Homo sapiens: one gene and its partners. The protein of the gene in region 1 interacts with the protein of each later gene in a biochemical or structural test. Each region holds a gene or a part of one and is shown in the gene's direction. Other genes may lie near its edges. The genes, in order: CD2, LCK, CD58 and CD2BP2.

Region 1 (6,964 bases):
CCTCTGACCCTCTCCTTGGGGCCCATCCTGGGCTTCATGTATAACAGTGTCTCCCTGGTATGTTTTTGCCTGGAGAAGCATTTCTTTTGTGATGCTGGGCCAAGTTCCAGTTTGTTCTTCAGATGACCCCGTCCCCTGACCCGAGCCCCACTGCTGCTTTTCTAACTGCTATTGACTCACAAAGGGCAGACAGCCCTAGAACCCCTCCTGTTTCCCCTGTTGCTGGGAAACAGCTCCCAGAAACACCAGTGCGAGAACACTAGTAAGAGCAAGACCTCACATTTGTGTTGTTTTACAGTTTACAAAGCACTTTCATATCCATTATCTGATTGACTTCCAACAGCCACCCTATGATGTAGGTTTCATTATCTCCACTTTACAAAGAAGGAAACAGGCTCAGAGAGGTGAAGTAACTCTCCAAAGTTCACACAGCTCCTGCCTAAAAAAGCCTAGACCAAACCCATTTCCCTTAACACCAAAGTCACTGTTTTCCTCATTGCATTACAGTGACTGAAGGTCCAGCAACTGAAGACTAAGCCCACTGCTGTTACTAACGCACTGTGCACCCGGGTTTCTCTCGTGGCTCCAGGGAAACTCTGTGAGAGGGTGCTGGCCGTGAGGTCAGAGTGCTGGGCTGGACAAGTGAAATATTTACCCTGAGTGTTTGGAAACTGCCTGGTAGAGACAGTGAGAAGGAATCATGGTGCAGTGGGGGTAGCCAGAGACGAGAGCAGGATCAACAGTGCAGAAACACCGAGACAAGGGGCTGCTTAAGGGAAATGCTCAGGAACAGATATTGTGTGGCTTCGGGCAACTCATTCTCCCTCTCAGGGCCTCATGTTTGAAGCTAGAGGTTGCATTTAGAGTATCTCTAAGATCCTCGGATCTAAAATTTCGTGATGCTTTCCATGACGGGGGCAGTGGGCAGGCCGGCCTTGGTGCATGAACAATCAGGCATTTCTAGCCCCTGAGAGCAGTTTCCCAAAGAGCCTGCAGAGGGAGCTTCCCAAGGACCTTGGGTCCTTCCAGGGTTGACACCACTCACCACCCTCTGTGAGCCTGGGAGTTATGGGGTGAAAGGTCCCAACAAGCTCTTCTATCTGCTTGATGCAGGAGGCAGCATCCTTGGCCAGAGTAATGGGCTCTCTGCCTGGACCCCTCCCAGCCATCCCACTTCTCTTCCTTTTGCAGAGAAAGGTCTGGACATCTATCTCATCATTGGCATATGTGGAGGAGGCAGCCTCTTGATGGTCTTTGTGGCACTGCTCGTTTTCTATATCACCAAAAGGAAAAAACAGAGGAGTCGGAGAAATGGTAAGCTCCCCCTCTTTTGTCCCACCGCAGGCCCCAGCAAAATCCCCATGAAACAGCTCATGGGGATGACACCTTGAATCTGCAGAGAAAATGATGGAAATAGGTAGTTTCGGAATGTCAGGGTTGTAGTCAGCGGTTATAGCTTGTTTCATTTTGTGGTTAGCTTGATTTTTGAAAAACAAATTCTTAGTGGTGACAATGTGGGAGCTTTGAGACACTGAATCCAGTTGGCCTCATTGGAATCCACCACTGAGGCCTACTTGGTGACAGGCTAATGTGAACATCTTTTGAATGAGCCACACTTCTCTACATAGGCAGAAAGGTTAGCTCCAAAACACCGTTTCTAGGAATAAATGTCCTATCTATGGGTGGCCCAAGGTGAGTTCAGGACCAAGCTCCTAGAAACACAGGGAAAATCATTCAGGTCATCAGGTAGTCACAGGAAAACAGCTGTTCTAAAGCAGGGTGCCTGTGCCCCCTTTGCTAATTCTCTGTTCGAGGGATGTGTTAGGGTTGAGAGTTTTTCCTCAGATCAGGCCTGTCTGACAATCTATCAGCAATGAAAAGGTTATGCTTGCAAGTGGGGAGCCGGCTTAGGGAGCATCCAGGCCACCCAAGGCAGAACACTTCAGAGAATGGCCAACCCGGGGTCACTGTGGGGGGCACAGATGAGGGTGTCAGCCATTGGCGGGACTTGCAGCCAAGGGAACAGGCCCTGGGGTTCTCTGCAATTCACGTTCACAGCAGGACTTGGTCTCTCCCTAGAACCGGCAGGCACAGCCACACCAGCTGCTTCCAGTGCTGCCCAGGGAGGTGGTCCAAACTTCCCCAGGCACCGGTGGCCTTGGGCCCCGTGCCCTCTGGATTTGGCTTCTTTACCTCAGATTTCTTCCTCAGTTCTCCTTCTGCCTCCCCATCAGGCTGCGGTCCCTCAGCCCCACGTCCCATCACGTCACTACCCCCAGCCCAGGCCCCGAAACATCATCCTGAACTTAGTCCCATTCTTCCCACCACGACTGTCCCACACTTTCCACCACAGCACAGCAGAATCGCTGGCAGGGCCCTTAGGCATGCCTGGCTTATCCTCCTCTGTGCCCAGCTCTGGCTGTTCTCCATGCTCCTCTCCATGCTCCTTCTCCATTGACTAATGGTCAAAGACCATATCTTCTTCCAAGGTGGACCTCACTTGTCACCCCAAGACAAGGCAATCTCTGCCATCACCAGGCTGAGAAGAATGATGGTTAGCTCATGCTGATAAAAAAGTCGTTAGTCTCTGTGTTTTATGTCTATTAGTGCATCCAGCTTTCAGAGTGATCTTAGGAGATAGATAACAACACAGATGAGGAAGCTTAAGTTCAGTGAGGTTCAATTATTTGCCTTAAATCCTATGGCCAGTAGGTTGACTCAGGCCTAGGCCGAGGCAAGGAGCCCAGAATTTAAGGCATAGAATTTAAGGAGGCTGGCCTGCCCTTGCACAACCTGAAAGTTGGTGTGTCTTTAAACTGCATGCCTGTCAGCCTCGCTTGCCTCATTCCAGTCATGCCCTGGGTTGAGTAACCAGGAGATGCAAACAAGGGAGAAGGACAATGAGCCTGGAGGAATTCCTGGGAGCACACATTTAGGCGCCAGCTGCAGCTGCTGGAGTGGGTAGGCTGAGGACCCACTGTCCTGCTTGAACCAGGCAGGGTGCACAGAGCCGTAGCCAACCTTGTCTGTCCAACCCTGCCTGCAGTCTCAGCCATGTGGCTACACCCCATTCCTCCTACCAGAGCTCATGTGCCTCTGTCTACACTTTCTGGTGGCCCTGGGCTCTTCACAGAAATTGACATTGCGATTTTCAGTTCTTGTTTGCCTCTTACTTGATTTTAGGCTTCCTGAGGACAATTTGTGTCTAAGTCACAATGACACTTAACACTTGGAAGATGAGGAATAAATGTTGGAAGGACAAATGAACCAAATGGTGTATGGGCCAAGTGTGGTGGCTCATATCTGTAATCTCAGCACTTTGGGAGGCCGAGGCAGGAGGATCATTTGAGCTCAGGAGTTTGGGACCAGCCTGGGCAATATAGTGAGACCTGGTCTCTACTTTAAAAAAAAAACTTAAAAATTAGGTGGGTGCATTGGTGTATGCCTGTAGTCCCAGCTAGTCAGGAGGCTGAGGTGGGTGAATCATTTCAGCCCGGGAGATCAAGAATGCAGTGAGATACGATCACACACTGCACTCCAGTCTGGGCAACAGAGCAAGGCCCTGTCTCAAAAAAACAAAACAAATAAAAAACAAAAATAGTGGGTGAACAGAGTAGTAAACCAATGGCCAGTGCAAGCTTGCCACATAGGAGATGAAGAAGGACCACCCACTGCCCCATAATTCAGAACTAGGGCCAGGGGTTAGAGCCCTCTCCACAGTCTACTGGACATAACCTAAGCAATGACTGCAGGGCACGGAAGATGGCATAGAGGATGTGTTTTGTCCTTTCTGGAGGCCCTTTCCTCTTTGTGCTTAGAGCACACGAGCCATTTAGGTATCAAAATCACATTGTCTAACTTTGACTCTACACTCAAAGCCATCTGATGCTCACATTTCATGTAGTCAGAGGAGGCCATCTGGTTTGAATCAACATCCGGAAGTTACAGGGTGATGCTTAGAGAGGGCTTGTGCTTCCCCAGCCACACATCTCCATAAAGATGTAAGAGGTAATTATTTCAGCTGGGTGCGGTGGCTCATACCTGTAATCCCAGCACTTTGGGAGGCCAAGGCAGGCAGATCACCTGGTCGGGAGTTCGAGACCAGCCTGACCAACATGGAGAAACGCCATCTCTACTAAAAATACAATATTAGCCGGGCGTGGTGGTGAACGCCTGTAATCCCAGCTACTCAGGAGGCCGAGGCAGGAGAATTGTTTGAACCTGGGAGGCAGAGGCTGCAGTGAGCCAAGATCGCACCATTGCACTCTAGCCTGGGCAACAAGAGTGAAACTTCAACTCAAAAAAAAAAAAAAAAAGAGGTAATTATTTCACCCCAGGGAAAAACTTCTCTTCCTACCTCCCTCTGGAGCCACTGCAAAGACGGCCTTGGGTGCAGGGACTGAAATACCTAACTTACAGCCTAAAGGAGTCCAGAGGGGCCAGCAGGGTGCTCCAGGCCTCTAGCAGCTGGGCACCTTCACAGATTCCCTGTGATTTTAAGAGTACAGGAAAAACTACATTACGAGTAGCTGTAGGCCTGCTTTCATGGACTGAAGTCACACAAAGAAGAAAATCCTGAAGGGTGAGGAGAGGAGGAGTTCTTTCCCTCCTAAGGCCAAGAACATAGGTCTTGAATTTCTGAGAAGCGAGTAAATTTCTAAGGACAAAAAGTTCCTTGCATGTGTTCCAACCTCTTGCCGGAAGGTGGATTGCATGACAGTAGAATTGGGGGAAAGGCAGATCTAACATAGAAATGCCTCAGAAGGAATGTAGTTACTAATATCCTCCATGACTGCTCATAACCCCTTCCCATGCGCTCTAACCATGAGGTTCTTGCTCTCAGGGAACAATTTCTAGGTCAGCACAGAGGTAGGGTTCCAGGTCTGCGTGCTCTCTCTGATCATGGGAGCCCCAGGCACAAAGCCCTCCACCCATGTGTCTTCTTCCTGCTGATTCCTTGAGTTCTCTTGTCCTAGGCTTTCACTCTACCTTATGGTGAGCACTTCTTTCTCTCCTACAAGCTTAGAGTTCTCAGATAGTAGGGGCAACTTCTGCTTCCTCATTGCATCCCCCAAAGCAGCTAGCATGGCGCCTTGCATATAAAAGGTACTCAATATTTACATTGATTTCACCTGGCCAAGATGAACTCTATTGAGGTTTTGTTGTTGCAGATGAGGAGCTGGAGACAAGAGCCCACAGAGTAGCTACTGAAGAAAGGGGCCGGAAGCCCCACCAAATTCCAGCTTCAACCCCTCAGAATCCAGCAACTTCCCAACATCCTCCTCCACCACCTGGTCATCGTTCCCAGGCACCTAGTCATCGTCCCCCGCCTCCTGGACACCGTGTTCAGCACCAGCCTCAGAAGAGGCCTCCTGCTCCGTCGGGCACACAAGTTCACCAGCAGAAAGGCCCGCCCCTCCCCAGACCTCGAGTTCAGCCAAAACCTCCCCATGGGGCAGCAGAAAACTCATTGTCCCCTTCCTCTAATTAAAAAAGATAGAAACTGTCTTTTTCAATAAAAAGCACTGTGGATTTCTGCCCTCCTGATGTGCATATCCGTACTTCCATGAGGTGTTTTCTGTGTGCAGAACATTGTCACCTCCTGAGGCTGTGGGCCACAGCCACCTCTGCATCTTCGAACTCAGCCATGTGGTCAACATCTGGAGTTTTTGGTCTCCTCAGAGAGCTCCATCACACCAGTAAGGAGAAGCAATATAAGTGTGATTGCAAGAATGGTAGAGGACCGAGCACAGAAATCTTAGAGATTTCTTGTCCCCTCTCAGGTCATGTGTAGATGCGATAAATCAAGTGATTGGTGTGCCTGGGTCTCACTACAAGCAGCCTATCTGCTTAAGAGACTCTGGAGTTTCTTATGTGCCCTGGTGGACACTTGCCCACCATCCTGTGAGTAAAAGTGAAATAAAAGCTTTGACTAGACCCGTGTCTGCTCATTGTGTGAAGGATCCCAGTGTCGAGGAGAGGAAGCTGCCGAATAAGAAAGAGCCTCGCTGGTGTGACAGCAGGATCAAATTCAGTCAACTCAATCCGGCTGAGACCTCCTTAGTCCTCACCAGAATGACCCGAACATGCTCCCCAGGTCTCAGCTGCAAAGCTGGGTCCAACAACCTATTTGTAGATTTCCATAATGAATTAAAGCCTCCATGCACAAACGTTAACAGGAGTCACCAGAAAACTTAACATTTTAGGTCTTACTTTCTTGACTGTTCAGACACGGTCATAATGACCTGTACTGTCATCCTTCAAAACAAGGGAATCTATGGATACTGGAGGTGTCATGAACTCATCAGATGACATACAAAAAGATAGGCTAAGAGACAACTCAGTTGAATCAAATCTTAAGTGTCTTAAATGACTATGATTAAAAGGTCAGACCCCATCCCCAGCTAGCAGTCATGCAGCTGTACTTTGAGGGAAGTGGGGAGAAAAAAATAGTTTTCAGTTAGAGTTCTAAAACAATAGGTGGTGAGAAGGCACCTGCTTTGAAATGCTGGTGCCTTGTCTGTGGTCCTGTCTGCCCGCCTTCTCCTTGGCTTCTTAGACTTGCTAAACCTTGTTACACTCTGGCAGGAAGCTCTGAGGGCTAAACCACAAAAACTAAGTACATTCAGGACTTCCTGTGACAGCTCACTGAGGATTGAACTACTTTTTCCTCTGAATCTGAGAGTCTATTTTTCCAGCAACCAGAGTTAATTACTAAGGGCAATGATGAATGAAACCTCATCGCCTCCCAAAATTCAAACACAAAATCCAGCTAGGTAACAATTGCCACAGGATCTACCCAGTAGAGAGATGAGGGCTCTGGCCGGGCATGGTGGCTCGTGCCAGTAATCCTAACACTTTGGGAGGCCAAAGCAGGTAGATCACCTGAGGTCAGGAGTTTGAGACCAGCCTGGCCAACATGGTGAAACCCCTTCTCTACTTAAAAAAAAAAAAAAAAAAATTA
Region 2 (8,664 bases), about 84 Mb from region 1:
CTCCGCCACCACCACCTCCTCTCCTCCTTCACCTCCTCCTCCTCTTCCTCCTCCCCCTCCTCATCCCTCTCCTCCCCCTCCCCTTCCCCCTCCTCCCCATCCCCTTCCCCCTCCTCCCCCTCCCCTTCCCCCTCCTCCCCCTCCTCTTCCCCCTCCTCCCCTCCCCCTCCCCTTCCCCCTCCTCCCCCTCCTCTTCCCCCTCCTCCCCCTCCCCCTCCCCTTCCCCCTCCCTTTCTTTCTCCTCCTTCTTCTTCTTTCCCATCTCTCCCTTCCTCCTATACATTCCCTCTTCTTAACCTCAAACTTCTACAATCTTTCTCTTGCCTTTTTCTAAAGGCTCCAAGAATGTCAAGCCTGGCAGGGACCTTACTGGTCTAAGTCCACATTCCATCTGATGTTGGTATTCTCTTTACAACACAACCAACTTGTGGTTTCCTAAGGCTCATACGACTATCACAAACAACAGGATGCTCACTACCTCACAAAACAGCTCAGCTTATCTGAGACCAGTTCCAGGTTGCTGTTAGTCCTTTACTGGGGGCTCTTGTTGCTAATTACTCTCAGGCTATAATAGTCAAAAAGTCATTTGCAGTCACAGATGGGTGCACTCTGGTCTAGCAGGATTTCCCAAATGTCCACCTCCCCCCAGGACTCCTAACAGTAGGGGAAAGAGTGAATACGTACCCTTTTCCTGGAAAGTTTCTTGATTTGATTTAAAATTCCATGCACATTTTGCATTTTCCTCCATAATAGGTCATGTTTGTTTAACTTACATGAATAAGGTCAGGAAACACTCATGCTCTGGAAAAATGCACACCATGACATGACTTCCGGTACCCATGGGAGGCTGAGTATCTCAGTTTAAGAAACAGGAGTCGAGCTGGGCACGGTGGCTCACGTCTGTAGTCCCAGCACTTTGGGAGGTCGAGGAGGGCAGATCACCTGAAGTCAGGAGTTCAAGACCAGCCAGACCAACATGGTGAAACCCTGTCTCTACTAAAAATACAAAATTAGGCCGGGCATGGTGGCTCATGCCTGTAATCCCAGCACTTTGAGAGGCCGAGGCGGGCAGATCACCTGAGGTCGAGAGATTGAGACCAGCCTGACCAACATGGAGAAATCCAGTCTCTTAAAAAATACAGAATTAGCCGGGTGTGGTGGCACACGCCTGTAATCCCAGTTACTTGGGAGGCTGAGGCAGGAGAATCACTTGAACCTGGGAGGTGGATATTGCAGTGAGCCGAGATCACACCATTGCACTCCAGCCTGGGCAACAAGAGCGAAACTCTGTCTCAAAAAATAATAATAATAAGGCCGGGCACAGTGGCTCACGCCTGTAATCCCAGCACTTTGGGAGGCCGAGGCAGGAGGATCACAAGGTGAGGAGATTGAGACCATCCTGGCAAACACGATGAAACCCCATCTCTACTAAAAATATAAAAAATCAGCCAGGTGTGGCGGCACGCGCCTGTAGTCCCAGCTACTAGGGAGGCTGAGGCAGGAGAATCGCTTGAACCCAGGAGGCGGAGGTTGCAGTGAGCTGAGATCGCGCCACTGCACTCCAGCCTGGGAGACAGAGTGAGACTCTGTCTCAAAAAAAATAAAAAAGAAAAAAGTAATGAGAGAAATGCAAATGCAGAAAGAGAAATGCAAATGCCTGGCAGTATGTTGGGCTTCTTTTCAAAACTTAAAAAAATTTATTATTATTATTCATTTATTTATTTACTTTAGACAAGGGGTCTTGTTCTGTCACCCAGGCTGGAGTGCAGTGGTGCAATCGTAGCTCACTGTGGCCTTGAACTCCTGGGCTCAAGTGATCCTCCTGCCTCAGCCTCCCAAGCACCTGGGATTATAGGCATGCACCACCATGCCCAGCTAGTTTTTATAATAATAATAATAATAAGAGGCTTGCTTGAGGTGATGGATAGCTCATTTATCCCTTTTGTGATTATTACACATTGTATGCCTCTATCAAAATATATCATGTACCCCATAAACATATATACTTACCAGATACCCATAAAAGTAAATAAATAAATAAGTAAATAAATAAATATACAAAATTAGCCGGGCGTGGTGGCACATGCCTGTAATCCCAGCTACTTGGGAGACTGAGGTAGGAGAATCGCTTGAACCTGGGAGGCAGAGGTTGCGGTGGGCCGAGATCGTGCCATTGCACTCCAGCTTGGGCAACAAGAGCAAAACTCCGTCTCAAAAAAAAAAAAAAAAGAAAAGAAAAGAAACAGGAGTCTAGGGCTGGGCACAGTGGCTCATTGCCTGTAATCCCAGCACTTTGGGAGGCTGAGGTCAGGAGTTCGAGACCAGCCTGGCCAACGTGGCAAAACTCTGTCTCTACTAAAAATACAAAACACAAAATACAAAAATTAGCCAGGCGTGGTGGTGCACGCCTGTAGTCCCACCTGCTTAGGGAGGCTGAGGGAGGAGAGACAGAGCTTGCAGTGAGCCCAGATCACACCACTGCACTCCAGCCTGGGCAACAGAGCAAGTCTAAAAAAAAAAAAAAAAGGAAAGAGAGAAAAGAAACAGGAGTCTAGGCTGGGCATGGTGGTTCACGCCTGTAATCCCAGCACTTTGGGAGGCTGAGGTGGGTGGATCACTTGAGGTCAGGAGTTCAAGACCACCCTGGCCAACATGGTGAAACCCCCATCTCTACTAAAATTACAAAAATTAGCTGGGCGTGGTGACACATGCCTGTAGTCCTAGCTAGTCAGGGGGCTGAGGCAGGAGAATCACTTGAACCTGGGAGGTGGAGGTTCCAGTGAGCCAAGTTCACACCACTGAACTCCAGCCTAGGTGACAGAGTGAGATTCTGTCTGTTTTTTTTTCTTTTGAGATGGTATCTTGCTCTGTCACCTAGGCTAGAGTGCAATGGCGTGGTCTCAGCTCACTGCAACCTCCACCTCCATGGTTCAAGCAATTCTCCTGCCTCAGCCTCCCAAGAAGCTGGGATTACAGGCGCGCACCACCACGCCCAGCTAATTTTTGTATTTTTAGTAGAGACAGGGTTTCACCATGTTGGCCAGGCTTGTCTCGAACTCCTGACCATGTGATTTGCCCTCCTCAGCCTCCCAAAGTGCTGGGATTACAGGCATGAGCCACCGCGCCCAGCCGAGACTCTATTAAAAAAAGAAAAAAGAAAGAAACAGGAGTCTAAAGCAAAGGAGATTAATTACCCAGTCCCATTCTTCCACCTTCCAAAGCAGGAGTTGGTAGGACAGAATTGTGCACTGGTGAAAGTGTTTCTAAGCACTAAACTAAGCTAACATTCATGTGAGCTTATGAGAAATGGATGAAGAGCCCCATTTGACAGAAGAGGAAAAGTGAGGCTTAGGAGGAATGATTTCAGCAAAGTCACACAGTAAGTGTCAAAATTGCTATTTGAACTTAGGTCTCTAACTATGGGGACAGTCTTCTGAGTTTTGCTAATGAGAAACTTCCACTGCTCCCTGCTTCCACTTAGACCCAGCATGAATTCTCTCTCTCTGTCTCTCTTTTGTTTTTTCTTTTTAGACAGAGTCTCTGTCACCCAAGTTGGAGTGAACAGTGCGGTGGCAGTGGCAGGATCTAGGCTCACTGCAACCTCCACCTCTTGAGTTCAAGCAATTCTCCAGCCACCATGCCCAGCTAACTTTTTTTTTTTTTTTTTTTTTGTATTTTTAGTAGAGACAGGGTTTCACCATTGTTGGCCAGGCTGGTTGTCTTGAACTTCTGACCCCAGGTGATCCACCCACCTTGGCCTCCCAAAGTGCTGGGATTACAAGCATGAGCCACCGTGCCCAGCCTGCTCTTTTGAGATGGAGTCTCGCTCTGTCATCCAGGCTGGAGTGCAGTGGCTTGATCTCGGCTCACTGCAACCTCTGCCTCCCGGGTTCAAGTGATTCTCCTGCCTCAGCCTCCTGAGTAGCTGGGATTACAGGCGTGTGCCACCATGCCTGGCTAATTTTTGTATTTTTAGTAGACACGGGGTTTCACCATGTTGGTCAGGCTGGTCTTGAACACCTGACCTCGTGATCCACCCGCCTCAGCCTCCCAAAGTGCTGGGATTACAGGAATGAGCCATCGTGCCCGGACTTTTTTTTTTTTTTTTTTTTTTTTTTGAGACGGACGGAATCTCACTCTGTTGCCAGGCTGGAGTGCAATGGCGCAATTCCGGCTCACTGCAACCTCTACCTCCTGGGTTTAAGCGATTCTCCTGCCTCAGCCTCCTGAGTAGCTGAGATTACAGGCACCTGCCACCAAGCCCGATTAATTTTTGGATTTTTAGTAGAGGCAGGGTTGCACCATGTTGGCCAGGATGGTCTCGATCCCTTAATCTTGTGACCCACCCGCCTTGGCCTCCCAAAGTGCTGGGATTACAGGTGTGAGCCACCGCGCCTGGCCTTTTTTTTTTTTTTTTTGAGACAGGCTCTCGCTCTGTTATCCAGGCTGGAGTGCAGTGGCACAATCGTAGCTCATTGCAGCCTTGAGCTCCTGGGCTCAAGTGATCTTTTTGCCTCAGCCTCCCAAGTAGCTGGAACTACAGGCATGCCCCATCACACCTGGCTAATTTTTTGATTTTTTTTCTAGAGATGAGGTCTCACTATGTTGCCCAGGCTAGTCTGGAACTTCTGAGTTTGAATGGTCTTACTGCCTCAGTCTCCCAAAGTGCCGCGATTACAGATGTGAGCCACCACGCCCGGCCAGCAACTCCAGCTTTGCTCTACTCCAAATAGGTTGTGTGACTTTAAGCATACCTCTGTGGGCCTCAGTTTGCTCATCTAAAATCAGAGGTTTAGCCAGGTATGGCAGCTCATGCCTGTAATCCCAGCACTTTGGGAGGCCAAGAAGGAAGGATCACTTGAAGCCAAGAATTTGAGACCAGTCCGGGCAACATAGCAATACCCCCATCTCTAGAACAAATAAAAAATCACCTGGGCTCAGTGGTGCCAGCTACCCAGGAGGCTGAAGTTAGAGGATCACTTGAGCCCAGGAGTTTGAGGTTCCAGTGAGTTAGGATTGGGTCATTGCACTGCAGTCTGGGCAAGAGAGTGACACTTTATCTCAAAAATAAATCAACAAATAATAAAATTGGAGATTAGGCTTGCTGGTTTCTAAGACCTTTGCAGATGGGAGACTCTATGCATTAACACTGCATGTTCCAGTTGACATTTATTAACTAATTTTGGGTGCTGGTGGCTTTCAGACAAATAAACTACAGCTTCTGCTCTTGATGAACCCCCACTCTCATCAAAGGTATGGGAGAGGCAGTGGGACCCTGGGGCTGACATGTAAATCAGTAATCATGGAACTCTGTGTCTAAGTTGATTATTGAGGTCTGAATAGAATGTTGCAGGAGACTGGGGTGAGAGGGAAGCAAAGAGCATTGGGAAGTCTTCAGACTAGGTGATATTTAGGCCAGGTGCCTGTAATCCGAGCACTTTGGGAGGCTGAGGCAGGAGAATTGCTTGAGGCCAGGAGTTCGAGACCAGCCTGGCCAACATGGTGAAACCCTGTCTCTACTAAAAATACAAAAGTTAGCCAAGCGTGATGGTGCATGCCTGTAATCCCAACTACTCAGGAGGCCGAGGCAGGAGAATTGCTTGAACCTGGGAGGTAGAGGTTGCAGGAAAAAAAAAAAAGGTAATATTTCAGCTGAGCCTTGAAGGTTGAGTTAGAATTCAGCAGTTGGACAAAAGAGAGCATGCCGACTGGGTTCGGTGGTGCATGCCTATAATCCTAGCATTTGGGGAGGCCAAGGCAGGAGGATTGCTTGAGCCCAGGAGTTCGAGATCAGACTGGGCAACATAGTGAGACCTCATCTCTACAAAAAAATAATCAGCTGGGCATGATGGTGTGCACCTTTAGTCTCAGCTACTGGGGAGGTTGAGGTGGGAAGATTGCTTGAGCCCAGGAGGTCTAAGGGGATTGCGCCACTGCACTTCAGCCTGGGAGAGGAAGGGAGACCCTGTCTCAAGAGAGAGAGAGAAAGAGAGAGAGAGAGAGAAAGAGAGAGAGAGAGAGAAAGAGAGAGAGAGAGAGAGAGAGAGAGCGAGAGAGCGCACGCATTTCAAAGCAGGGAGAACCACAAGTACAAAGGCATTAAGTAAGAAAATAGCATGGGGTGTTTGGGAAAGGCAAGAATAGTTCAGAACACAGGCTGTGTGTGTGGGGGTGTGTGGGGGTGCCTGTGTGTGGGTGTTTGTGTGTGTGTGAGTGTGGGTGTGTGGGGGTATCTATGGAGGGGATGCCTGTGTGTGTGTGTAAGGTGAGTGTGTGGATGTGTGCATGGGTGTGGGTGAGTGTGTGGAGGTGCCTGTGTGTGTGTATGAATGTGTGTTGGGGAGGGGAGAATGTGTGTGTGTGGGGTGAGTGCGTGTGTGTGGGGGTGAATGCGTGTGTGTGTGTATGTGGGTGTGACTGTGTGGGTGTGTGGACGAGTGTGTGTGTTCCTGGGTGTGGGAGCCTGTGTGTGTAGGGGGAGTATGTATAGGGTGTGTGCATGAATGTGTGTGTGGGTACGTGTGTGAGAGTGGGTGCCTGTGTGTGGGGGGTGAGTGTGTGTGTGGGGGGGCACTTGTGGAGGGTGAGTGTATGTGTTTACTGAGTGTGAGTGTGGGTGCCTGTGTGTGGGAGGGTGAGTCTGTGTGTGAGTGTGTGGGGGAGTACCTGTGAGGGGTGAGTGTGTGTGTTTATGTGAAAGTGTGTGTGTGTGGATGCCTCTGTGGAGGTGGGATAGGGGGTGCCTCTGTGTGTGTGTGTGAGAGTGTGTGTGTGTAGGGTGTGTATATGTATAGGGTGTGTGTGAGTGTGTGTGTGTGAGAGAGTGTGTGTGTGGCAGAATAGACTGCGGAGGTGGATTTCATCTTGATATGAAAGGTCTGGAATGCATGGTACATTAAACTTTGAGGACAGCGCTTTCCAAGCACTCTGAGGAGCAGCCCTAGAGAAGGAGGAGCTGCAGGGACTCCGGGGGCTTCAAAGTGAGGGCCCCACTCTGCTTCAGGCAAAACAGGCACACATTTATCACTTTATCTATGGAGTTCTGCTTGATTTCATCAGACAAAAAATTTCCACTGCTAAAACAGGCAAATAAACAAAAAAAAAGTTATGGCCAACAGAGTCACTGGAGGGTTTTCTGCTGGGGAGAAGCAAGCCCGTGTTTGAAGGAACCCTGTGAGATGACTGTGGGCTGTGTGAGGGGAACAGCGGGGGCTTGATGGTGGACTTCGGGAGCAGAAGCCTCTTTCTCAGCCTCCTCAGCTAGACAGGGGAATTATAATAGGAGGTGTGGCGTGCACACCTCTCCAGTAGGGGAGGGTCTGATAAGTCAGGTCTCTCCCAGGCTTGGGAAAGTGTGTGTCATCTCTAGGAGGTGGTCCTCCCAACACAGGGTACTGGCAGAGGGAGAGGGAGGGGGCAGAGGCAGGAAGTGGGTAACTAGACTAACAAAGGTGCCTGTGGCGGTTTGCCCATCCCAGGTGGGAGGGTGGGGCTAGGGCTCAGGGGCCGTGTGTGAATTTACTTGTAGCCTGAGGGCTCAGAGGGAGCACCGGTTTGGAGCTGGGACCCCCTATTTTAGCTTTTCTGTGGCTGGTGAATGGGGATCCCAGGATCTCACAATCTCAGGTACTTTTGGAACTTTCCAGGGCAAGGCCCCATTATATCTGATGTTGGGGGAGCAGATCTTGGGGGAGCCCCTTCAGCCCCCTCTTCCATTCCCTCAGGGACCATGGGCTGTGGCTGCAGCTCACACCCGGAAGATGACTGGATGGAAAACATCGATGTGTGTGAGAACTGCCATTATCCCATAGTCCCACTGGATGGCAAGGGCACGGTAAGAGGCGAGACAGGGGCCTTGGTGAGGGAGTTGGGTAGAGAATGCAACCCAGGAGAAAGAAATGACCAGCACTACAGGCCCTTGAAAGAATAGAGTGGCCCTCTCCCCTGAAATACAGAAAGGAAAAGAGGCCCAGAGAGGGGAAGGGAATCTCCTAAGATCACACAGAAAGTAGTTGGTAAACTCAGGGATAACATCTAACCAGGCTGGAGAGGCTGAGAGCAGAGCAGGGGGGAAGGGGGCCAGGGTCTGACCCAATCTTCTGCTTTCTGACCCCACCCTCATCCCCCACTCCACAGCTGCTCATCCGAAATGGCTCTGAGGTGCGGGACCCACTGGTTACCTACGAAGGCTCCAATCCGCCGGCTTCCCCACTGCAAGGTGACCCCAGGCAGCAGGGCCTGAAAGACAAGGCCTGCGGATCCCTGGCTGTTGGCTTCCACCTCTCCCCCACCTACTTTCTCCCCGGTCTTGCCTTCCTTGTCCCCCACCCTGTAACTCCAGGCTTCCTGCCGATCCCAGCTCGGTTCTCCCTGATGCCCCTTGTCTTTACAGACAACCTGGTTATCGCTCTGCACAGCTATGAGCCCTCTCACGACGGAGATCTGGGCTTTGAGAAGGGGGAACAGCTCCGCATCCTGGAGCAGTGAGTCCCTCTCCACCTTGCTCTGGCGGAGTCCGTGAGGGAGCGGCGATCTCCGCGACCCGCAGCCCTCCTGCGGCCCTTGACCAGCTCGGGGTGGCCGCCCTTGGGACAAAATTCGAGGCTCAGTATTGCTGAGCCAGGGTTGGGGGAGGCTGGCTTAAGGGGTGGAGGGGTCTTTGAG
Region 3 (6,657 bases), 250 kb from region 1:
GAAACAGCTCCAGCTGCCTAGTTGTAGTTGACAGACAACTTTATAAGCTCTAGTCAACCCTATTGACTAAGCTTCTGAACCACTAGCATAGTTCTAGGGTCAGGCGGATGCCTACTGTGGGCAGGAAAGTGATGCATGCATGTGTGGGAGCAGTGTCTTAATGTCTGAAATAGTAGCCATGAGCTACATGTGGCTATGGAGCACTTGAAATGTGGGAGTCCAAATTATCATGTGCTGTGAGTGTAAAATAATATGTTTCTAAGACCGTGTGTGAAAGAATATAAAATATCTCATTAAAAAATGTTTATATTGAGTACATGTTGAAATAATTTTATATTTGTGACACATTGTGTTAAATAAAATATTAAAATTTACATTTTTTTTTACTTTGTAATGTGGATACCAAAAATTTTAAATTACTTATGTGGCTTGCATTATATTTCTATTGGACAGCACTGGTCCAAACTATTCTAGCCTTCCCTGCATCTTCAGCCTTATGCACGAGGTAAAATTAGCCATTTTGTCAACAGTTTTTGCATTTGGTTTTCTATCATGTTCTGACCAATTTTTGAACAACTCTTTGGACCAGCTCTGTAGCCGATTTGATTTAAAGCATATAGGATAGCAGGAAATCCCAGGGTGATGGGGCTCTGGCTTAGTTTTCCATATTTAGGCCTCTAATAGGCAGTCAGTAACTCCACATTTCACCTTTTCTTTTCAGTTCTTTAATTGAGAAGACAATTTCTTCATTTTTAGGTATTCTGAAATGTGACAGAAAACCAGACAGAACCAAGTAAGTACACTGCAGGCTGTGCACTCTGTGCCAGAACAACAGCAGCCCTGCTGTAGATGCCCATTACTTGGGAAGCCAGATTGTACTCATCTGTTGGTTGCCTTGTACAGTAATAAGAAGTAACATCAGCAGATATACTAACCATAGTGTATTAAGTACCAACTGTGTGCCATGCACTGCACTAGCCACTCTCTGCATATCGTTTCCTGGAACCCTCTCAATGAGCCTTGCAGGAGGAGTATCATACCCCTTGCTTAGAGACAGCGCATATGAGATTCATAGAAGTCAAGTGAGATATCAAAGTCACGTTGCTAGTAAGTGATGGGCTGGGATTTAAATCTAGGTCTTTGGACTCCAAGAGTTATACTGTTAACCACTACAATACACTCCCTCCACCTCCCATCCCAGAAAAAGTTGGATCAGGGATAGGGTTCACTTCAGGAGCCAGGGTCAGAGCTGGGCCTGTAGTCACATATAAAAGATAGGACACAAACACAATTAGCAGCAGTGTTGGTTTAATAAACCGCCGTAGGGTGCTCCAAGAGGCCCCCTCCTGGCAGATCCCACTGGTGGTCAGGAGGCAGAGGCATGAGCTGGGTGTTGAGGGATGAGGGGAAGAGTTAAGGCCCAGGGTGTGAAGGGCAGGACAAGAAGTAGCAAGCCATCCTCTTTGGAGCAGAGAGTGTTGAGGCATTAGAGAAAGATGGGGCTGGGCTGGCAGGTTGGGCCAGGCTGAGACTTTGAGAGAGGCTTTGGGTCATTCTTTAGGGAGAACCGCAGAGTTTTCTAGCAGAACTATGCTTTAGTAAGATCACTCTGCTGGCAAAGCATGGGACTAATTAATAGGAGATGAGATGAGGACACTGGTTAGTGGAGTAATGAAATAATCCAGCCAAGCAGAGAAGAGGGCCTGAGTCAAGGTGATGGTGGCAGAACTGAATATGCAGAGCTAGGTTTGAGAGAAACAGCAGAGGTCCTGTTAGCAAAACTTTCATCTGGCAGTGTAGGCTCTGATGCCAAACTCCCTGGTTCAAATGCCAGCTCCATTTCTCACAGGCCTTGGACAAGTCACTTAAACTCTCTGTGCTTTGGTTGTCTTCTGTGGAAAATGGGCATAATGATAATATAGAAATGACAATGATAGCATAGATAATCACATAGAAATAACTGTGTCAAAATATATTAATATAAGTACAATGCTTACAATAGTGGCTGGCTCATAATAGTTTTCAATAAATGTTAGCCATTATGACTATTGTTACTATTATTTTTCAAGAAAAATAAAAGCGACAGGACCAAGTGTCACAGAGGAGTCACACAGGAATCTTGGTTGGGAAGGAAAATTATGAATTTTTGCTTTGACAGGTTGATTTTGGGGTGCTGGTGTATTACCTGGCTAGTGATGTCCATGCACAGAATTGGAGCGTGGGCTTCACGCTAGAGTTACGGATTGGGGCGCCTCTTCATCTGGACAGTAATTGATGCCGTGAGCACCTGAGGTCACTAAGAAAGAAAAGCTAGATGCCCTAGGGTGATGGGAAGAGGCAGAGGAGGCGGGACTGGGGAAGCAAAGTCCAGGATCAGAGCCAGGGTAGCCCCGGGTTAGAGACTCGAGGGAGGAGGCTACATGTTAAAGCTGCAGAGACAAGGAGGTAGGCGAGGGGTTAAGACCTTTGGTTTTGTGGAGTCGGTTGCTGTGGTCAGTGCAGGGATGAAGTGAGGGTGGCTAAGCAGCAGCAAGGGCCTAGGTGAGGTGGGATCGATGGATGGGCCACAGGTGTCCTTTCTCCTCAGCTGCCAGGTGGAACAGTGCAGGAGAAACAAGCTGTGGCAGGAGGCCTGGGGGCAAGGAAGTACAAGGGGCAGCTCAGCCGGCCACAGACCCAAGCTGGGAGGACCCAAGGCCATGAGGGGTTGATGGGCCAGGAGGCTGGGCAGAGAGGAGCCAAGTAGCTGGAGATGAGGTGAGGTGGGAGAGGTAGGGACCTCCAGGCTTGTGGTCAGAGGAAGGCATTTCAGATCTGAGCAATATGCGTGAGCCCCAGGTGAGTGTGAGAGCCAAGTCAGGTCTCTGCTGAGATCTAGGTGGTTACAGTGGAGGGGAACTCTGAGTGGATGGGGGAGGCATAGCCATCACTACCAATGATGGGGGTAGGGGGGCATCATCCAGGGCCACGGGGAAAGGGGATGGGCATTCTGGAACTCATCCCTTCCTCTGTTCCTTTCATCACAACAAACGTTATGGAGATTATGCGATACCAGGCACTGTGCTAGCTGATAGGGTGGGGGTCAGAGTACCCAGCGAGGCTAGACATTGTGTGGGATTCAGAGAAAGCATATAATAGGGCTCCTCCCACAAGAAGCTTGTGGCCACACCAGGGAGAGAGAATGGATGCACATGAGCATACGAAACTCTTAGAAGGACTTAGGCAGGAAGCACAGGTGATAGGCAGAATGTGTGATATGAGGGTAAGGGCTGAGCAACCAACGCAGAGGAATTGGAGAGGCCAGAATAATCAGAAAAGCTTTGGAGGGGGTAGGATGTGACCTACATTTTCAGAACAAGAGTGGAGTAGAAAAGGCATTCCAGGTGGGATAAACAGCGGAGGCAAATACATGAGAGGGAATTAAATCTGTTGTGATTTATTTGATAGTAAGATTGACCTGCCTGGCATCGAGTTGAAGTAGAGGCAAAAGACACTGAATATTTGCAAGGAGGTCCTTAGAATGGAGTGATATGGAAATAAGCAGCCATTATAGGTTCTTGAGCAGGAACATTTTGCATGAAAAGCACTGCTTTGGAATGATGAGTCTAGAAAGGTAACACTGACCTCTCTAAGGTGGCATTCTAGGGAGAGACCTGAGTATTTGGGGCTGAGATTGAGAGAGGAGCTTACTTTTCTTGGTATATTTTTATTTACTATTCAAGTTCTGCATCATGTGTGTTTACTGCCTATTTAATAATTATTTTTAAATTTAAAGAACCCATTGTGGCAGCAGGGGGAATTCTCTAAGCTCAGTTACTAAAGGGTTATGAAGCTGGGTATGGTAGCACACACCTGTAGTCTCAGCTACTTGGGAGGCTGAGGTGCGAGGATCGCTTGAGTTTAGGAGTTAGTGGGAGGATTTCTTGAGCCCAGGAGTTAAGAGACCAGCCTGGGCATCAAAAAAATTAAGTTAAATTAAAATGTTAAAAGGTTCTGTATATGGTGGAGATGGAGGAGATCGGGGGAGGAGATGAGAAAGGGGCAAGCATAAGTAGGAACAAATGCAATATTTCCCCAGCTGCGCGAGGGCAGGAGCAGGAAGAACTAAACCCAATTAGGAACAACAGAGGACAGATGAGTAGATAGCAGACATCTGACGGGAAATGGCCACGCCACACTTCTCACCCAGGCAGTTCAACGTAGGCAATTTCTGAGTGCCCTGGTATTTTTTGTGTAAGTGTCTAGAAAACAGATCACAAAGTTAGCCAAATTAAAAAGGAAGCAGGGAGTCCTATTTCTCCGAGAAGAAAGATTTACAGGTGGGATCTCAGGCAGGAGCCAAGCTGGAGAAGCAGGCTTGATTCCTTGTAGTGGGTGAGGAGACTGCTGGGAGAGGGCAGGGAAGCAGAGACCGGCAAAAAGCTGCCCCAACAAGAATCCTGTGCCTGCCAACCTGGTTTACAAACATTTCCCACTTTATCCCCCTCAGAAAGTCACAGCACCCATTTCATGTTCTGTGAGGCTCCCAAGGAGGGAAACTTCTAGTTTGCTGTCCTTTACCTCACCCCTGTGACCACAGCACTAATTTCTCATGAATTCTTGTTACCAATGAGATACAAATGTTTGGGGAGCTCTGGCCTGGTCTGATTTTGAGCTCTGTGGAAATACGCAGACCACGGGGGAGGAGGCCGGGAAATGGACTCGGTTTGAGGGCTTGCTCAAGGATGCGGTTTTGTTTTTCGGCTGATTTACTCCAAGACAGCCAGAGATTGTTCTGTCGTTGCCACAGAGGTGACTAAACAGGAAGGTAAGTTTGAGGTAGGAAGAAAACCATCCCCAGGAGTTTCATGTAGCAAAGAAGGAAGTAGCTGTTACAAATGGGTGACAGTTTACATGTGGGTCTAACAGTCTCAGCTCTGTTGTTCAATCTTTCAGTTATACTCAGAGAGTAAGCGGGAGGAGCCTTGGGGCTGCTATTGAGTGCAGCATCCTGAAGGCTGTTCTTCAAGTGTTACTCAGACTACTATCCCAAGAGCACTCAAGGCAGTTCTTCCTCCATCCCTGCTCCCTAGCTCCCTTGGCTTTGATGAGTTTATTACAAAAGGGCTATTCACTTTAGAATAGGAGGGTAATTAAGACTCCTGGTCTGCAGCCCAGATTTACTGCATTTTACAAGTTAATAATATGATTTTTTTTTGTAGCTCCAATTGATTGGTAACAGAAGATGAAGACAACAGCATAACTAAATTATTTTAAAAACTAAAAAGCCATCTGATTTCTCATTTGAGTATTACAATTTTTGAACAACTGTTGGAAATGTAACTTGAAGCAGCTGCTTTAAGAAGAAATACCCACTAACAAAGAACAAGCATTAGTTTTGGCTGTCATCAACTTATTATATGACTAGGTGCTTGCTTTTTTTGTCAGTAAATTGTTTTTACTGATGATGTAGATACTTTTGTAAATAAATGTAAATATGTACACAAGTGACTAGGTGGTTTGGCTACTGTTTTCCTAAGATAGAAAAATAAGGGTCACATACCCTTTTAAAATCTATACTCTTTCTCCCTTGCTTTAGGGGAAAAATAATTCATTGTAGGGTCATTCATGGAGTGAGGGAGAAAAGTACTGTCCCTCACTGGGTTCCACTGCTGTCAGTACGAGGCAAGTGAACACATGGGTCTTTACTTCTAGCTGCTTTTGAAAAGAGCAGATCACCACCATCCAGTGCAGTTGTATAACACAGGTGGGGCAGGGAGACTTCTCTCGCTGCCATTAATTAGCCTACTTAGTTTGTTGCATTGGTTAGCTGTCACATTGGGAGGTCAACAGCAGACAGTAGCTGGAAAACCGTAGTCATAACAAATACAGAGTGGCAGCCACTCCTGAAGTGGTGGACGGTGCCAGTTGCCTCTGGCAGCCATGTAAACCCAAGTCAATACATAGACGCTTTAGCTTGTGCCTGCACTGTCCCTGGAATTCCTGTCACATGAGAGTCTCCAGGCTGAAGGAAGAAATCAATATTTCTTGACTCCAAGATGGGCCTGTCAAGGTGGGTGGATCACAAGGTCAGGAGATCGAGACCATCCTGGCTAACACAATGAAACCCCATCTCTACTAAAAATAAAAAAAGTTAGCCAGGTGTGGTGGCGGGCTCCTGTAGTCCCAGGTACTCGGGAGGCTGAGGCAGGAGAATGGCGTGAACCCAGGAGGCGGCGCTTGCAGTGAGCCAAGATCAGGCCACTGCACTCCAGCCTGGGGGACAGAGCGAGACTCCATCTCAAAAAAAACCCCTCAGGCTACATGTGTTCTCTCTAGAACAGCCTGCATCTGAGCTCCCACAGGCCTCAGCAAGAGTGGGAAAGGAGCCCAGAGTGCTTCTGGGAAGACCCACATCTCCCCAGCTCCCCCCATCTCCATGTGGCATGGATTCCTATCCTGTCTCAGACTAATCTTGTCAAACCCTTTATCCCAGACCCTGTAGGAAGCCCATGACTCCCCTGGAGACTTCTGTCCCATGCAGCTCTGTAATGCCCCACTTTCTGCCCCCATCCATCAGCAGCGACATCCCTGATGTCCTCTTCTGTGAATGCCTCCTTTGCTTCGCTGTTCTAATCGAAACCCAGCTCTCCCTGGGGATGCTGCCTCCCACAGCCT
Region 4 (8,768 bases), on another chromosome or scaffold:
TCCAAGCCTTCCCCAAGAACCATGAAATCCAGTGAGACCGATAAGGCAGGCCCTGCCCTGGGGAGCTACTGCTTTGGGGTGACAAAGACATTTAGTGCTAGAGGAGGGCTGATGCTGCAGCTGTGGAAAGCTTCCTGGAGAAAATGACCTGGAAGGTTTCTGGGATGTGGCTGAGGAAGGAGGGCGAGGGTGCAGCCTGTGCTGGGATGGCCAGGAGCATGTGGAGTATGTAGCCAAAGGCGGAGCCCCGGGGCCTGGAGTGCTCTGCTGTGGGCTGAGCCTTTAGCTGAAGCTCGCTCAGCAGGACTGGGCAGGTGGATGGAGGAGCCTGGTGATAAACTCTGGGACGAATCTGGAACTGGGTTTGGGGACAGAGCTCTCAGCCCGTGACTGCCCTCACAGTCTTCCCCAACCCCCACAGGCAACAGGACCTGTACCGAATCCTGAAGGCCTACACCATCTACCGGCCTGACGAGGGTTACTGCCAGGCCCAGGCCCCCGTGGCTGCGGTCCTGCTCATGCACATGCCTGCGGAGGTCAGCGCCCTGGTCCTGGGCCGGGAGGGGCAGGGGGGATCTCACCCTACAGTGGTGATGGGGGAGCTCCCTGCTCCCTGCTTCTCAGGCCCCACCCCTCCTCCTTGTTCTTGCTCTTCTCAGCAAGCCTTTTGGTGCCTGGTGCAGATCTGCGACAAGTACCTCCCAGGTTACTACAGTGCAGGGCTGGTGAGTGTCTGGAGGCTGGGTGCATCCGGGGCTGTGGCGTTTCCTCCAGGCTGCAGGCAGGTCCTTGCCTTGCCCCACCCTGGCCTTCCCGGCTTCTGCCCACAGGGCCGGCCAGTTCTCCCCTGATGGGGGCACAGCTGACTTGGCCCTCTTCTCATGGCTTGTCCCACCTGCAGGAGGCCATTCAGCTGGACGGGGAGATCTTTTTTGCACTCCTGCGCCGGGCCTCCCCGCTGGCGCATCGCCACCTGCGGCGGCAGCGCATTGACCCTGTGCTCTACATGACGGAGTGGTTCATGTGCATCTTCGCCCGCACCCTGCCCTGGGCGTCGGTGCTGCGTGTCTGGGACATGTTTTTCTGTGAAGGTACTTCTGTGGCCCTCCAGGCCATGAGGGGCTGGGGTTTCTGTGGTGGCTACCAGGGGTTCTGTCATATTTCTGGTGGTCCATGGACAAAAGGTACTTGTTGGGTGGAGGTTTCACCATAAGCAGCTGGGGGCTGGAGAAACAGGCCTGATTTTAGTTCTGCCACCAACCCAGAGCCTGCTCTCCCTGCCAAGATCCTGAGACTGATAGCAGCTCATGTACTTTCACAGGGCCTCAGTTTCCTCATCTGAGATTGGCAGTAGATGGGGATGGGGGCTGTGAGTCTATCCTGATCAGGACAGGCTGAGATCTTGGGTCTGACCACCCCATGCTCTCTACTCTCCACCCCTGCAGGCGTTAAGATCATCTTCCGGGTGGCCCTGGTCCTGCTGCGCCACACGCTGGGCTCAGTGGAGAAGCTGCGCTCCTGCCAAGGCATGTATGAGACCATGGAGCAGCTGCGTAACCTGCCCCAGCAGTGCATGCAGGAAGACTTCCTGGTGCATGAGGTAGGCCTGTGCCCTCAACGCAGCCCCTGCCTGCCTCAGCCCGCTCCCACCCTCAGCTCCATTCTGGTACGCATTTCCTCTCTGTGCAGGTGACCAATCTGCCGGTGACAGAAGCACTGATTGAGCGGGAGAATGCAGCCCAGCTCAAGAAGTGGCGGGAAACGCGGGGGGAGCTGCAGTATCGGCCCTCACGGCGACTGCATGGGTCCCGGGCCATCCACGAGGAGCGCCGGCGGCAACAGCCACCCCTGGGCCCCTCCTCCAGCCTCCTCAGCCTCCCTGGCCTCAAGAGCCGAGGCTCCCGGGCAGCTGGAGGGGCCCCGTCCCCGCCGCCCCCCGTCCGCAGAGCCAGTGCTGGGCCTGCCCCAGGGCCTGTGGTCACTGCTGAGGGACTGCATCCATCCCTTCCCTCACCCACTGGCAATAGCACCCCCTTGGGTTCCAGCAAGGAGACCCGGAAGCAGGAGAAGGAGCGGCAGAAACAGGAGAAGGAGCGGCAGAAACAGGAGAAGGAGCGGGAGAAGGAGCGGCAGAAGCAGGAGAAAGAGCGAGAGAAGCAGGAAAAGGAGCGAGAGAAGCAGGAGAAGGAGCGGCAGAAGCAGGAGAAGAAGGCTCAAGGCCGGAAGCTTTCGCTGCGTCGAAAGGCAGATGGGCCCCCAGGCCCCCATGATGGTGGGGACAGGCCCTCAGCCGAGGCCCGGCAGGACGCTTACTTCTGACCTCTGCCCTGGGGCTGGACTGCATGGCCCCCCTCTTTCCCTCAGCCAAGAACAGGCCTGGCCCAAGGTGCCACCCCCTAGCACCTTGTCAGGCTGTCCCTTGCTGGGGAAAGTGGCTTGGTTCCCCATCTCCTCGCCAGCTGCTGATCCCTACACGGGCAGGACAGATGGGCAGCTGCAAATGAGTCTGGAGCCTCTCATCTCCCATGAGGCTCAGCTGGGGTCTCTGTCGCTCCTGCCCCAGTTCCCTCTGGGTCCCCTCCTAGGTGCTGTCCTGAATGGCCCGTTGTCATCCCAGGGGTGACTCCTGGTGATGGGAGTCAGCAGTTTCAGATTCTTACACTCCATAGCTCCCCTTACCATGAGGTGGAGCTGGCTTCCTTTTCCCTGTCTTCAGCCCTCCCTGTCTCCCCCACTTCCTGGCCAGGGCTCTCATTCTGGACCTGTGTTGTAATTGTGTACAGAGGATGGCGTTGGCCTGGGGTGGGGGTGCTCGCTTTGTCTTCTGTCCTTTGGTTCTCCTTCCATAATGCTCCTGTACCCAGTTTATTTAAGGGGACATGCACTGGAATAGGAAATGTCCCCCATCTCCCTTCCTGCACCCTGCTGTGCTCCCTCCAAACCCACCTTGCTCTGTGTTCTCAGGCCCCCCTGCTTTTGTCTCACCAGGACCCATACCTTTCACCTTGTTCCCTTCCACCCCTCCAGTTAGTCCCTATCTGGGTAAGGGTCTTCCCTTGAGCTCCAGGGGGTGGAACCCAATGTTTACATTCTCTTCTGTCTCTGCCCCCACCCCATGCAGCGCTTTGAGGAATTGGAAAAGAACCTGCTGTTGTACCTGGGCCTGTTTTCTGCCTTGTTATTTGATGAGGGGGGGATGGGGTAAGGACGAGGGAGGGAGGGACAGAGCCAGGACCTGGGTCTCTGTTGAAGCAGTCTGCTGTCTTGGCAAGTAGGTACCTCTTAGCTTTGGGTCCATCTCTCAGTCACTCATCAGACACTGGTTGAGCTCCTGCTCCATCTTTGCCTGGGATCTGCTGTCTCCATTGTCACTGGCTGCCTGGAGCTCTCTATGTACCACGTGCAGCACCCGGATCTCCTTCCCAAAGTGCTCATGCAACTCCTGGAAGCTGGAGGGGGTACTCACAGTGGCTAGAAAGCCACTGTCCTCTGGGGATGAGATGGGTTCTTGGCCAGTTGCCTGGCACAGCTCCCAGTATTGGGTTTTGGTGGGGGGGGAGGGGGGACAGCAGCCCAGCCAGCCGCCTCCAGCTCGCGCCAGCCAGTGCCCACAGCCAAGTCTCCAGCTCTTCCTGGGTTTCTGCAGCCAGCTTGTAGGCCCGCCCACCTGTGCCCTCCACCCCAGGGGTCAGGATGGTAAAGGCATAGGGTTCTGCAGCCTTAAGGTGTGGTTCCACCTGGCAGTTCTCTAACAGGATGAGGCTCAGGGGTGCATGGTCGGTCTAGTGTTCTAGGTAGAAGAGGAGGTTTCCTCGGAGGATGAACCATCGGCGCTGGTAGCTGAGGTTTCGGGTCCCCTTCTTTAGCAGAATGCCTTCCTGGTCTGGGGCCTGTGTTCTGTAACCATGGAAGAAACTGAGCACGGACTTTCTGTGCAGTTTTCATCGTGATCCAATATGGGAGGAAACCCCTAGGGAGAGAGAAGTGGCCCATCTAGTTGCCTGGGGGAAGAGTAGGGGAACTCTCATGCTGTCCTCGTCTGGCTTCAGCACGTGCTGCCTGCGCACAGTCTTGGCTTAGGGGGATGCAGGCTCCGAGTGTCAAGAGCTAGGGGTCCCAGCACAGGGGCTGATCCCCGCTACCTCCCCAATTCCCCCTTCTGCTTGGGCCACATTCCGCTACCTGGGCAGGAGTTGCTAGGCCCTGTTTGCTCAGGGGGGCTTCATGCTGCAGAGAGGCACTGTTGCCCTTTTCCAGGCCTACCTGAGAGCAGGGCACAAGGGGCTTCTGGCCTGAGTACTGGCGCCAATGCCACCTCTCCAGTGATGGCTCTCCCACCTCAGAAACCAGGAACTCGCCCAGGGTATGGGCGTGGGACAAATTATTTCCCCTGGGTCCTAAAGGGAGGTGTGTTCAGAAAGTGCCCGGAGAGCCGTCCAGGGGCCCCAGGCTGGCCATCGGGAGAGTCAGGCTTCCCCTCGGAGAGGCAAGGCTGCACCTCTCAGGCTAGGAGGGCTGACCACTGGACCATAGGAATGGGAAGGCAGGATTTCTAACGAGACGGTAGGGGCGCTGAGCCCTTAGCCCTGGGGGAAGGGTGACTTGAACCCAGGACAGGAAAACGGAGCAGCAACCCACTGACCCTGCTCGGACTTTGCCCCTCCATCCTGACCCTGGGCGGCCCTTTAAGCAGATGCGCTCCAGTTTTTCTCCAGAGCCTCTACTGCTTGAATGACGGACTCGAAGCTACTTCCGGCCATTTCTCACGCCCAGTCAGAGTCCAGGAATTCTTAGGTTCCCTCTTCTCACCATTGTCCTCCCACGTGACTGACGTCACTTCTGGCGGGAGAGAGGGTGGAGGCGTCTTCGCTCGCTTATCGCATACTTCCGCCCGCTCTTCCAGTTAGTTCCCTAACCCGAGTGAAGCCACTTCCGGGCTTCCCGGGCGCCTTCCGCAGTCCTCTTCCGGGTGATGGCGGCCGGGTGCCCCGGATGTAGCCCTGGCGCAAGCATCTCTTCTTTTTTCCACCTCGCCTTCCGCGGATTCCCAGGTGAGTGCGCGAGGGTGGGACCGCCCGAATCCCCGTGGCCCTCTAAGTTGTACACAGCCCGGGACAGTTGGGGCTCACCACACGGAATTGGGAGTTCGGAGCAGGGAGGAACGGGGTGGCGAGAGCGCCAGGTCCTGGGTCTGCCGGGGCCCGGCGAGCTCCGAGAGAGCCAGGGTAGAGAGCGGGGGTCAGCCCGTGGAGCCGGTGGCGCGCAGACTGCGGGGGCTGGAGTTGGGGGCGGTCACGTGGTGAAGCCTGTCTCCTTTCAGCCAGGGTCGGGGGATCCAGAGGGTCCGCTCCTCCGTCCCCGCCCCGTTTAACTCGCGGATGCTAGACCCAAGTCCTGGAGGCCTCCTGGCTGCCAGCTTCCTTTCGGCCCCTGCTTTTGTGCTCCCTCCGCTCCCAAACTGTACCTGTCACAGACCAGGAAAAATGTTTGCTGTGCTGCGTCTGTTGGCGAGTCCCCTCCTCACCCGGTTCCCTTCCTCTGCATCCTTTCCTCAGCTTGAGAAACACCTCTTTGCCCCGTCATGCCAAAGAGGAAAGTGACCTTCCAAGGCGTGGGAGATGAGGAGGATGAGGATGAAATCATTGTCCCCAAGAAGAAGGTGAGGGGGCCAGACTGCTTTGTGTGGGGGAAAGAGGAGCTAGAAGCCTGAAGAGGAAGAAAGCTGGCGGGAGAGGGGCGGGGCGGGCAGGCAGAGAAAAGCCTAGTTTTTTCAGGTTCTCTGAGGAATGGGTTGGGAGCGTCTTTAGTGTGGCTCCTGAAATATTTGGGGAAGTAGTCGAGATCCTGAAATATTTGGGGAATATTTGGGTCCAGATCCGGAAGTATTTGGGGAGGTAGCCAGTAACCTGCATTTCTCAACTTTCTGGCTCCTGCTCACAGCTGGTGGACCCTGTGGCTGGGTCAGGGGGTCCTGGGAGCCGCTTTAAAGGCAAACACTCTTTGGATAGCGATGAGGAGGAGGATGATGATGATGGGGGGTCCAGCAAATATGACATCTTGGCCTCAGAGGATGTAGAAGGTAAGCTGTACCCAAGAATACACTCTGCTGGAAAAACAAGTAGGGGCCTCTGGTGGTGTGGAGCGAGGGAGGCTCCGGTCTCTTTTTTCCATGCCTGGAAAAGGGCACCTGTGTCTTTGGTGCAGGTCAGGAGGCAGCCACACTCCCCAGCGAGGGGGGTGTTCGGATCACACCCTTTAACCTGCAGGAGGAGATGGAGGAAGGCCACTTTGATGCCGATGGCAACTACTTCCTGAACCGGGATGCTCAGATCCGAGACAGCTGGCTGGACAACATTGACTGGGTGCGGCCCAGGGGCTGGCGTGGCTGGGGCCTGGGAGTGGCAGATGCTGGGCCTGCTCCCGTGGCAGTTGGTGGGAAATCACTCCATCTTCCCATTACAGGTGAAGATCCGGGAGCGGCCACCTGGCCAGCGCCAGGCCTCAGACTCGGAGGAGGAGGACAGCTTGGGCCAGACCTCAATGAGTGCCCAAGCCCTCTTGGAGGGACTTTTGGAGCTCCTATTGCCTAGAGAGACAGTGGCTGGGGCACTGAGGCGTCTGGGGGCCCGAGGAGGAGGCAAAGGGAGAAAGGGGCCTGGGCAACCCAGTTCCCCTCAGCGCCTGGACCGGCTCTCCGGGTTGGCCGACCAGATGGTGGCCCGGGGCAACCTTGGTGTGTACCAGGAAACAAGGGAACGGTTGGCTATGCGTCTGAAGGGTTTGGGGTGTCAGACCCTAGGACCCCACAATCCCACACCCCCACCCTCCCTGGACATGTTCGCTGAGGAGTTGGCGGAGGAGGAACTGGAGACCCCAACCCCTACCCAGAGAGGAGGTGAGCTTGGAGGACAGAGGAGGGGGCAGTGGGTAGGAAGTGAGACACTGGAGGCCAAATGGCTTTGCCTGTTATTTTAGAAGCAGAGTCGCGGGGAGATGGTCTGGTGGATGTGATGTGGGAATATAAGTGGGAGAACACGGGGGATGCCGAGCTGTATGGGCCCTTCACCAGCGCCCAGATGCAGGTGAGCTGCTTTCTCCCTCCTCCTGCCTTGTCCCTGCTTCCCCCACTCCTGTCAGTTGTTCCCCAGCTCTGCCCTCTCCTTGCAGACCTGGGTGAGTGAAGGCTACTTCCCGGACGGTGTTTATTGCCGGAAGCTGGACCCCCCTGGTGGTCAGTTCTACAACTCCAAACGCATTGACTTTGACCTCTACACCTGAGCCTGCTGGGGGCCCAGTTTGGTGGGCCCTTCTTTCCTGGACTTTGTGGAGGAGGCACCAAGTGTCTCAGGCAGCGAGGAAATTGGAGGCCATTTTTCAGTCAATTTCCCTTTCCCAATAAAAGCCTTTAGTTGTGTACTGGGGCCTTGGCTGTGCTGATGGCCAGAAGCCAGGGGCCTTCTCCACAGTCCCTTTGGACTTGTCTTGGTCCCTGAGTACTCCCATGAAGATCCTTCTTGGAGGTGCCTGTCAGGTATCCTGTGGCCTCCCTGCCTGGACTCTGCTTGCCGTGTAAACACCCCCAACTGCGCTGCTCTGTGCTCCTCTCCCAGGTTTCTTGTTCGATTCCTCTTAGGTCTTTGGCTTTCAGGACCTCAGATTCTTTATCCTTGTAGCCACCAGAGGACAGAGCCCCAGAAGTGGATGTTTTAGGCCCAGAAGGACCAGGGCATCGAGAAGACATTGGGACCCTGTTGGGGGTGAGCATGGAACCCTCTTACTCTCGCTTCACCCTCTCAAGCTCCTTAGATGCTGGGCAGAAGTGGGATGAGTGGCCCAAGACCGAGATCCCTAAGGTTCTGAGAGCCAGTGTCTTCCCTAATCTGGCTTTCCTCTATCCTTGCCGTCGTTCCCACAGCCCTTCAGTGAAGTGCAAACTCAGTGGCCAAGTGTGGGCCAAGTGTGCATTGTACTGGCACAGAGAGGGGCAGTGACTCACTGGAGATCACAGGAATCAAAGGGCTGGCCCAGACCCAGTGGGCTCCTTTCCCAGACCTTTCTTGGCACAAAGCCTTTGCTGCCTGGCCTTGGAGGCCCTGCGGCCTACATTCTCTGGACCCCACTATGTGCCTGGCACAGGGCTAGTGCCTTGAGGAAACTGAGGTAGCTGGGTTGGTCCCCTTCCAGGAATTCAGAGTCTGGTGGCAGGGGCATGGGAAATAGACAGATGTAATTCTATAGCCTGGGCCTGGCACCCTCCACCTCCACGCCCCACCAGCATTGCCTTACGCCTCCCTTGCCCCACGTTAGATGGTTTCTTCCGGTTTTGCACTCTGGCTGCCCCTTGGAGTCTCCTGGGGAGCTGTAATATCTCTTTGGAGATTCAGATTGAGCTGGTCTAGGTTGTGGCCCAGGCATTGGGCATTTTGGAAGCCCCCAGGTGTTTTCAGCTTGCAGCCAGGCCGAGAGAGAGCCCCTGAGTCAGATCCCCATGGTTTAGGCACACCTAGCGGGAGGGGTGGCTCCTGGACCCCACCGTGGTTGGAGAGCTGAGCATGTGTGTGGCTTTAGTGGGGTCTGTTAGTTATGGGGGTCTGGGCACTGGAGCTGCAGGACACTTGGGATCCCAGGTCAGAAAGGGCCAGATGAGCAACTAGGAAAGACTTGGGGGCCAGGGCGGAGTGGGGTCACCTGACACTCTTGTGAGGCCCCTTCTAGTGCCTGCTCACACCGGAATTTCATTCACTCCAAGAAGCCATCAGGGGTAAGAT

The links.
Region 2: the proteins of CD2 (region 1) and LCK form a complex in vitro, tested with the Homo sapiens proteins (one study listed by BioGRID).
Region 3: the proteins of CD2 (region 1) and CD58 form a complex in vitro, tested with the Homo sapiens proteins (3 studies listed by BioGRID and IntAct, with this or other methods).
Region 4: the proteins of CD2 (region 1) and CD2BP2 interact in a biophysical measurement, tested with the Homo sapiens proteins (6 studies listed by BioGRID and IntAct, with this or other methods).

Annotation. Positions count from the first base shown.
Region 1 is NC_000001.11:116,763,293-116,770,256, forward strand, and holds the end of CD2 (T-cell surface antigen CD2 isoform 2 precursor), read left to right. Parts: intron 1-1,113; coding exon of another isoform or gene 1,114-1,191; coding exon 1,192-1,314; intron 1,315-5,171; coding exon 5,172-5,491; 3' UTR 5,492-5,937; downstream 5,938-6,964. UniProt on the Homo sapiens protein: CD2 interacts with lymphocyte function-associated antigen CD58 (LFA-3) and CD48/BCM1 to mediate adhesion between T-cells and other cell types. CD2 is implicated in the triggering of T-cells, the cytoplasmic domain is implicated in the signaling function.
Region 2 is NC_000001.11:32,266,601-32,275,264, forward strand, and holds part of LCK (tyrosine-protein kinase Lck), read left to right. Parts: intron 1-7,520; exon of another isoform or gene 7,521-7,597; coding exon of another isoform or gene 7,598-7,729; coding exon 7,730-7,834; intron 7,835-8,136; coding exon 8,137-8,218; coding exon of another isoform or gene 8,219-8,392; coding exon 8,393-8,483; intron 8,484-8,664. UniProt on the Homo sapiens protein: Non-receptor tyrosine-protein kinase that plays an essential role in the selection and maturation of developing T-cells in the thymus and in the function of mature T-cells. Plays a key role in T-cell antigen receptor (TCR)-linked signal transduction pathways.
Region 3 is NC_000001.11:116,513,367-116,520,023, reverse strand, and holds the end of CD58 (lymphocyte function-associated antigen 3), read left to right. Parts: intron 1-721; exon of another isoform or gene 722-756; coding exon 757-793; coding exon of another isoform or gene 794-797; exon of another isoform or gene 798-1,324; intron 1,325-5,201; coding exon 5,202-5,211; 3' UTR 5,212-5,490; downstream 5,491-6,657. UniProt on the Homo sapiens protein: Ligand of the T-lymphocyte CD2 glycoprotein.
Region 4 is NC_000016.10:30,351,495-30,360,262, reverse strand, and holds the start of CD2BP2 (CD2 antigen cytoplasmic tail-binding protein 2), read left to right. Parts: upstream 1-4,954; 5' UTR 4,955-5,051; intron 5,052-5,328; exon of another isoform or gene 5,329-5,555; 5' UTR 5,556-5,581; coding exon 5,582-5,659; intron 5,660-5,940; coding exon 5,941-6,079; intron 6,080-6,204; coding exon 6,205-6,362; intron 6,363-6,462; coding exon 6,463-6,895; intron 6,896-6,975; coding exon 6,976-7,082; intron 7,083-7,167; coding exon 7,168-7,278; 3' UTR 7,279-8,768. Other genes in the region: TBC1D10B (TBC1 domain family member 10B), read left to right, coding at 422-536, 660-725, 902-1,091, 1,446-1,600, 1,690-2,319. UniProt on the Homo sapiens protein: Involved in pre-mRNA splicing as component of the U5 snRNP complex that is involved in spliceosome assembly.